Homo sapiens: one gene and its partner. The protein of the gene in region 1 purifies or fractionates together with the protein of each later gene. This does not show direct contact. Each region holds a gene or a part of one and is shown on either strand. Other genes may lie near its edges.

Region 1 (3,827 bases):
AGTGGTAGTCCCAGTCCCAAGGCTTGAAAAATCAGAGAGTGGGCTGGGCGCAGTGGCTTCTGCCTGTAATCCTAGCACTTCGGGAGGCCAAGGCGGGTGGATCACTTGACTGGAGTGAGGAGTTAAAGACCAGCCTGGCCAACATGGTGAAACCCTGTCTCTACTGAAAATACAAAAAATTAGCCAGGCATGTTGGTGGGCACCTGTAATCTCAGCTACTTGGGAGGCTGAGGCATGAGAATCGCTTGAACCCAGGAGGCAGAGGTTGCAGTGAGCCAGGATCGCACCACTGCACTCCAGGCTGGGTGACAGAGCGAGACTCTGCCTCAAAAAAACAAAACCAAAAAATCAGAGCCAATGGTGTAAGTTCTAGTCTGAAAGCCTGAAGGCTTAACATCCAAGAAGAGCCAATTTTTTTTTTAGTTCAAATCCAAAGACTGGAAAAGACTGATAATCCAATTCAAGCAATCAGGCAGGAGGAATACCTACAAACTCTACAAACTCATGGCGGGGTGGGGCAGAGGAGTCAGCCTTTTTGTTCTATTTAGGTCATCGATTGATTGGATAAGGCCCTTCCACATTAGGGAGGACAATTTGCTTTACTCAGTCTGCTGATTCAAATGTTAATCTCAACCAGAAACACCCTCACAAACACACCCAGAAATAATGGTTGACCAGATGAGTGGGTACCTCATGGCCCAGTCAAGTTGACACACAAAATTAACCATCACAAGTACCCAGCATAGTACCTCACTATTACTGTCATTACTATACAGAGTTCTTTATATATGATATTTAATCCTCAGAACATCTCTATGGGGGTGATAGGAGTTATCTTCACTTGCATAAAGGGATGCTAAAGGTTCTAAGAGGCCAAATAACTTACCCTGTTACTCCCAGCTGGTAAAAGAGAACTAGCATGTGCCCCTAGAACTGTCTGACATTAATGCTCTTTCCATGACATACTATTGTTTCCTAGGGCCTAGACTTTTTTGGTACATCTAGCCCCTTTTCATCACATCTTACTTTCCTCTACTTTTCTTTATTTGGTTCTTCTCTTCCCATTGATTCTCCACAGAAGAAGAATTATGAGCGGCTTCAGAAAGCTCTGGATAGTGTGATGTCTATTCGGGAGATGACCCAGGTATTCTGCCTTCTCTCTGTCCCCTCTCCTTTGCCTGCCCAGTTCAAGTGTCCTATTCTGTTGGTAATTTGTGGGAGTGGGATGAAGATTTAGAGATGCTACGCACTGTATTTTTTTTTTAGTCTTTCCTCTTTAACCTTCCCAATTCCTGTTCTCTGTTTTGTTAGCTCTGTTACTCCTCTTTATTCTCTTTAGTCTTTGTGTCTCAATCTTTACCTTTGCTGTTAATTCCTTTACAAGTTGTTCATATTTAATGTTTTGCCATAATTCTTAGGGAGTTAAGAAGTGAAGGAAAGACCTCTGCCCAGGGTTGGGAGGGTGAGGAGGAGGGGGGCTTGAAGGTAAGGAACTAGACACAGGGGCCTACATCTTCTATCCTTCTAGGGGTGGGGCAGCCACATGGAGCGGTGACCATCCTTTGACTCAAGGCTGTCCCTCACCAGACTTCCCCACCCCTCGTCTGCAATCTCTGCATGAATAGACATTCATTTGTACTCATTTACAGGTGGGCCTCTTCTCAGCAAATCCTGTATATCACAGTTGAGATTTACACATAAGATACACCTAGGAGGAATGATTTACTTGTCAGGAGGACGCTTTGCATTATTTAAAGATTTACCACAGGATTCCTTAGCCTAATCTTCTTGGGACATTGATTTTATTTATTTTTTGATTTATAATCAACTTTTTAGGGCTGTAGGAATTGCATAAAATGAGGGAGACCCACCTGCATGTTGTTTTGTAAGCATCTTCAGTCATTTTCATATTTATTTATGAGTCTTCCCAGCCTGACTAGGGCTCCTTGAGGGTGGGAACCCTATCTCCTTTTTCCTCTGTGTGGCCTTTGGTGCCTACCTTGCCCTGGACCCTAATAGTCACTCTGTGAAAAGCAGAAAGCAGGTAGGCTCCCACCTCTCCAAGGAGATAACGTTATGGCCATTGTCTTACAGGGCTCATATTTGGAAATCAAGAAACAGATGGACAAGTTGGATCCCCTGGCCCATCCTCTCCTGCAGTGGTATGGATAGAATGGCTCATCCTTCTTGGGTTATGGGGAGGGAGGGAGTTATTGGACATGGAACCTGTACCTTCTTTTAGTGGTGGTTTCAACATCCTTCCCAAGGTTATAGGCAGTAATGGGTGCTTTTTCTTGGAGTTTGTTGGCATACCTTGCCTTGAAAATAACACATCCTACAAAACGCCCACAAATTCTGACATGATTTTTCTTTCAAAAAAATTATTTTTAATCTTATTTTAATTGTTTCTTTTTTTTTTTTTTTGAGATAGGGTCTCACTCTGTTGCCCCGGCTAGAGTGCAGTGGTGCGATCATGGTTCACTGTAGCCTTGCCCTTCAGTGCTCAAGTGATCCACCTCAGCCTCCCCAGTAGCTGGGACCACAGGCATGTGCCACCACACCCAGCTAATTTTTTTTTTTTAATAGAGATGGAGTCTCCCTATGTTGCCCAAGCCAGTCTTGAACTCTTGGGCTCAAGTGATCCTCCTGATTGGCTTCCCAAAGTGCTGGGATTACAGCTGTGAGCCACGATGTGCAGCTGACATGATTTTTCAAGTTCTCTTTAGGTGTTCCATGTTTCGCAATAGGTTTTGTTGTTTGTTTTCTTTTTTGGTTTGTTAATTTATTTTTTAAATTGACAGATAGAAATTACAGGGCCGGGTGCAGTGGCTCACACCTGTGATCCCAATACTTTGGGAGGCCGAGGCGGGCGGATCACCTGAGGTTGGGAGTTCGAGACCAGCCTGACCAACATGGAGAAACCCCATTTCTACTAAAAATACAAAATCAGCTGGGCATGGTGGCCCATGCCTGTAGTCCCAGCTACTCGGGAGGCTGAGGCAGGAGAATCGCTTGAACCCGGGAGGCGGAGGTTGCCGTGAGCTGAGATTGCTCCATTACACTCCAGCCTGGGCAACAAGAGCGAAACTCCGTCTCAAAAAAAAAAAATTACATGTATTGTGTACAACATGATGTTTTGAAATATGTGTACATTGCAGAATGGTTCAGTAGAGCTAATAAGCATATGCATTATCTCGCGTATGTATTTTTTGTGGCGAGAACACTTAAAATCTACCACAGTGATTTTGAAGAATATTACACATTGTTACTAACTATAGTCACCACCAATAGGTTTTTGTGTCCTTTGCATGTAGAAATTAACACTGTTAATTTCAACTAAGTTTTCTTTGCATCCAGAGACGTCTGTCTCCTCCTGCTATCCCCTTGCCCTGTCTCTGGGCCTCCTTGATGATATAGAATGTCCAGAGCCTTGAGGCACTATTGCTGTGCTCTTCTCCTAGCCAAGATTTTGACTGTCCCTGCTGCCATCCATTCCTGATCTCAATTTCTATTGTTTTCCTGACATAGCTTTCCCTTTTTAGTTTGCCTCCCTCTTCCTAGTCAGCCTTCAGTACTTCCTCAGTGCAACAGCTTTCTCCCTCTTAGCCTGAGGAATAACCAGGCATAGACCATCTGAGGTGGCATCACAGGTACATAGATGAGGCACAAAAAACAAAGACAACAGCAAACTGTATCCACATGGGAGATAGTGCTCTCTTGCTGAGCCCTCAGTGTTTTATGTCTGTTCTCTTCTATCTTCTGTGTTCAGCCTGTATAGAGCTTAGTCTGTCCTTGACTCCTAAGGAAGTTCATTCTAGTTTCTTCTG
Region 2 (2,945 bases), on another chromosome or scaffold:
TCTGCCTTCTTCATATGCAATTCATTGTAACTATAATTTCTAATACTGAGAAAGAAACAATGAAGCCATTCAGACTAGAGAGACATAATTGGCTTGTGGGATTTTCAAGATGTTTTATTGACTATCTAATTTGAATCTACTTACAAAGAGAAGAAAAATGTCTAGTATGTAAAGCAATGAATGAAAATAAATGTTTATCCTAAGTCATTATTGAGTACAAATCCACAGCTTAACAATGTGTTTTTAACAGCAGGAGAGCATGCAACTGCTCTAACACACAGGGTCAGAAATAAAAGGTAAAAGTACATTTGTTTTGTAACTGTAAATATACAAATATAAAATTTACCATATCTACCCTGTAGTGTGGCACTGCTTAACTGCCAAATATACAGTCATTCAAAAACCTTAAGGAAACATTGAAAATGTCTCAGGCTACTTTACTGAACATTAACGAATATTGTGTTCTTGAGCTATTAGAGCTAAAAGTATTATTTTTAAAGTTATATGAGCAAGGGAATAATAAAAGTATCATTTCACGTGTCTTTTAATCCCATAGACGGCTTTTTGTTAAAGGGATTAATTATGTTAAAAGGAAACTGATTTGACAAATAGAAACCAGTTCCAGAACCAAAGTTGTCCTCTTGGTAGAATGTCAAAATGTATATTATTTCCAAAGTATTTTCATTATTAATCTACTCAAATAATTACAAACAGTTTAATCAAGGGAGTCACTATTTAACACTTTTAAAATCTACACTGGCAGTTGGAATGGAACTTTTACAATGCTATTAAGGAACAGTTCTCTAGACTTTCATCTGCCCCTCAAAGTGACATCCCTGTTTTATGTTAAATTACCGACCTCTAAGGAATCAAAGGCATGTAGAGACACAGAATTGATATTTTGTTTGGGGAGAAGGGTAAAGATTATGTTGGAACATTTAGTCCCTTCTACAATCAAGTCCTAACTATACCATAATAAAGTCTCAATCAACTCCTAATTAGTTCTTCCCCTTCAGGAATTACATAGTATACAGTGATTAAATGCTGAAGAAAATAAAGAAAAACAATTGAAAATACCTGAAGAAATACAAACAAGAGATTTCTCACAAGGCCTTGGATCAAAAAAAAAATTTACAAAAAGATCTTTTGAAAATAATCACTATTTGTGAGCTTATTAATACACACAAATCATCACTTTGTTCAAATTAAGTCATGTTAATTTACCAATAAAATAGTAAACAAACCAACATTTTAAACAATTTTATAAATTACTCGTTGTTCCTTTTGTTAGTGTTTCTTTCTCAACAATATACAAAAATAACACTACAGGACTATCCACCTAACCTGTCTCCATCTCTTGCAAAGTCCTGGGACCTGGAAAGAGGCTGGTCCATCAATCTTCACTGTAGATGTCTCCCGCAAAGGGCAGGTGCATGTGGCTGCCAGTGACATTGGGCAATCGAGATAAGTCTGGCAGGCTCTGGATCCGGGACCTGAGTTCTTTGCGCACCAGGGAAACTCTGGCTAGCTTGCGCTTGTACTCCTGTAACATCAAACCACTTTCATTAGCATTCAGGGATTGAAAAAACTTCCTAGCTAATAATGACCTACATAAACCCAGGTACTATATATACTCAGTTAATGCCATATTTAAAAAGGTTATTCCAGTGTGAGTTTTCACATCAAAAGATGAGCTTTGGAAATATATAACTAGTAAACTATTATTATTAAGAAAAACCACAATCTTTAGCTGTTGCTTCACACCAGTAGAAAGAAGACTAACATTAATGTGCTTAACCTCGACATATAAGATGTTCAGGTATTCTTGAGTTTGGGCAAGAAAAATTACATATTTATTTTCATAAACCTTAACTAAAATTTGGCAAGAACATCTATGAAAACTCAGTAGGAATGGCCAGAGTCTGTGGTGTCTGAAGCAGGACTGCTCCCTTCCTGTGCCCTCCCATCTAAGCAAGGAGGGTCCACTCCAGACTGCTGCAGCCAAGAATACAGGATCACTCTCCCTGCAACTCCCAGTGGGAGGGTTTTATTCCCAGAAAGAGCGCCTCTCATCCTACCCCAACTACCTGGTGCTGAAGCTAAGTCCTGAGATAGAGCAGGGAAGAGCCTGGGGACTCCCTCCTGTCCAGCCCCCACTCCTGGAAAAGAAGTTCCTTCTTATGCGTGGAGGACTGAGAATACTTGGGCCCTGATAAGCCTCACCCCCAACTCATGAGGAAGGTGGCTCCACAGCAGAAGAGGCAAGCCAAGACAACCTCAGGCTGCTGCACCCCTCCCTTTCTCCAAAAGCTCAGCACCCACAACAGGGTATCACTCAGAGAAAAGCTTCCCACTATACCCATCTCAGTTCCAGGGTCCTGACTCAAAGATTTGGTCTAAGGAAGTAGCAGGCAGTAAAATAGATATGTCCATGGCAATTCACTATTACCACAGTGCATGGCACAAGGCAGGGAGATTCACGCTCTTTCCAAATGTGGTCACAGGTAAGTCCTGAGAGGACCATCCTAGAGAGTGCATAGATGAGGAAACATCTAAGGAAGAAACCCAGCTAGGAGTTTACTGCAACTCTCCAGGAAAGAAAGGACTAGGGCCTGAACCGAACCAAACCAACAGTAGTAAGGATAGAGCAATGTCCTTTAAAAACTACATTATATGTAAATAATACCTTAATGTCAAAGACTAAATGTTTAGAAAGAAAAATCAGCAGGAATTGGTTGTGGTTCTGCTGTGAGGAATAATGAGGGTTCAGGCTTCATAAGCAGGTGGATATCGGAGCTGTTATCTGAGATAGCAGAGAGGGGCACAAACTCCTTTGGAGAAGGATACAGAGTTCATTTTTAAGCATGATAACTGTGAGTTATCCATGGGATTTCTAGTAGGCACTTGGAAATGTGATTACAGTATTCTGAGCTACAAATAAAGAT

What was found.
Region 2: the proteins of PARP6 (region 1) and RPRD1A fractionate together in Homo sapiens (co-fractionation; one large-scale study listed by BioGRID). This does not show direct contact.

The regions. Positions count from the first base shown.
Region 1 is NC_000015.10:72,251,772-72,255,598, reverse strand, and holds part of PARP6 (protein mono-ADP-ribosyltransferase PARP6), read left to right. Parts: intron 1-1,078; coding exon 1,079-1,144; intron 1,145-1,528; exon of another isoform or gene 1,529-1,649; intron 1,650-2,094; coding exon 2,095-2,162; intron 2,163-3,827. UniProt on the Homo sapiens protein: Mono-ADP-ribosyltransferase that mediates mono-ADP-ribosylation of target proteins.
Region 2 is NC_000018.10:35,991,758-35,994,702, forward strand, and holds part of RPRD1A (regulation of nuclear pre-mRNA domain-containing protein 1A), read right to left. Parts: intron 1,544-2,945; coding exon 1,394-1,543; 3' UTR 1-1,393. UniProt on the Homo sapiens protein: Interacts with phosphorylated C-terminal heptapeptide repeat domain (CTD) of the largest RNA polymerase II subunit POLR2A, and participates in dephosphorylation of the CTD by RPAP2.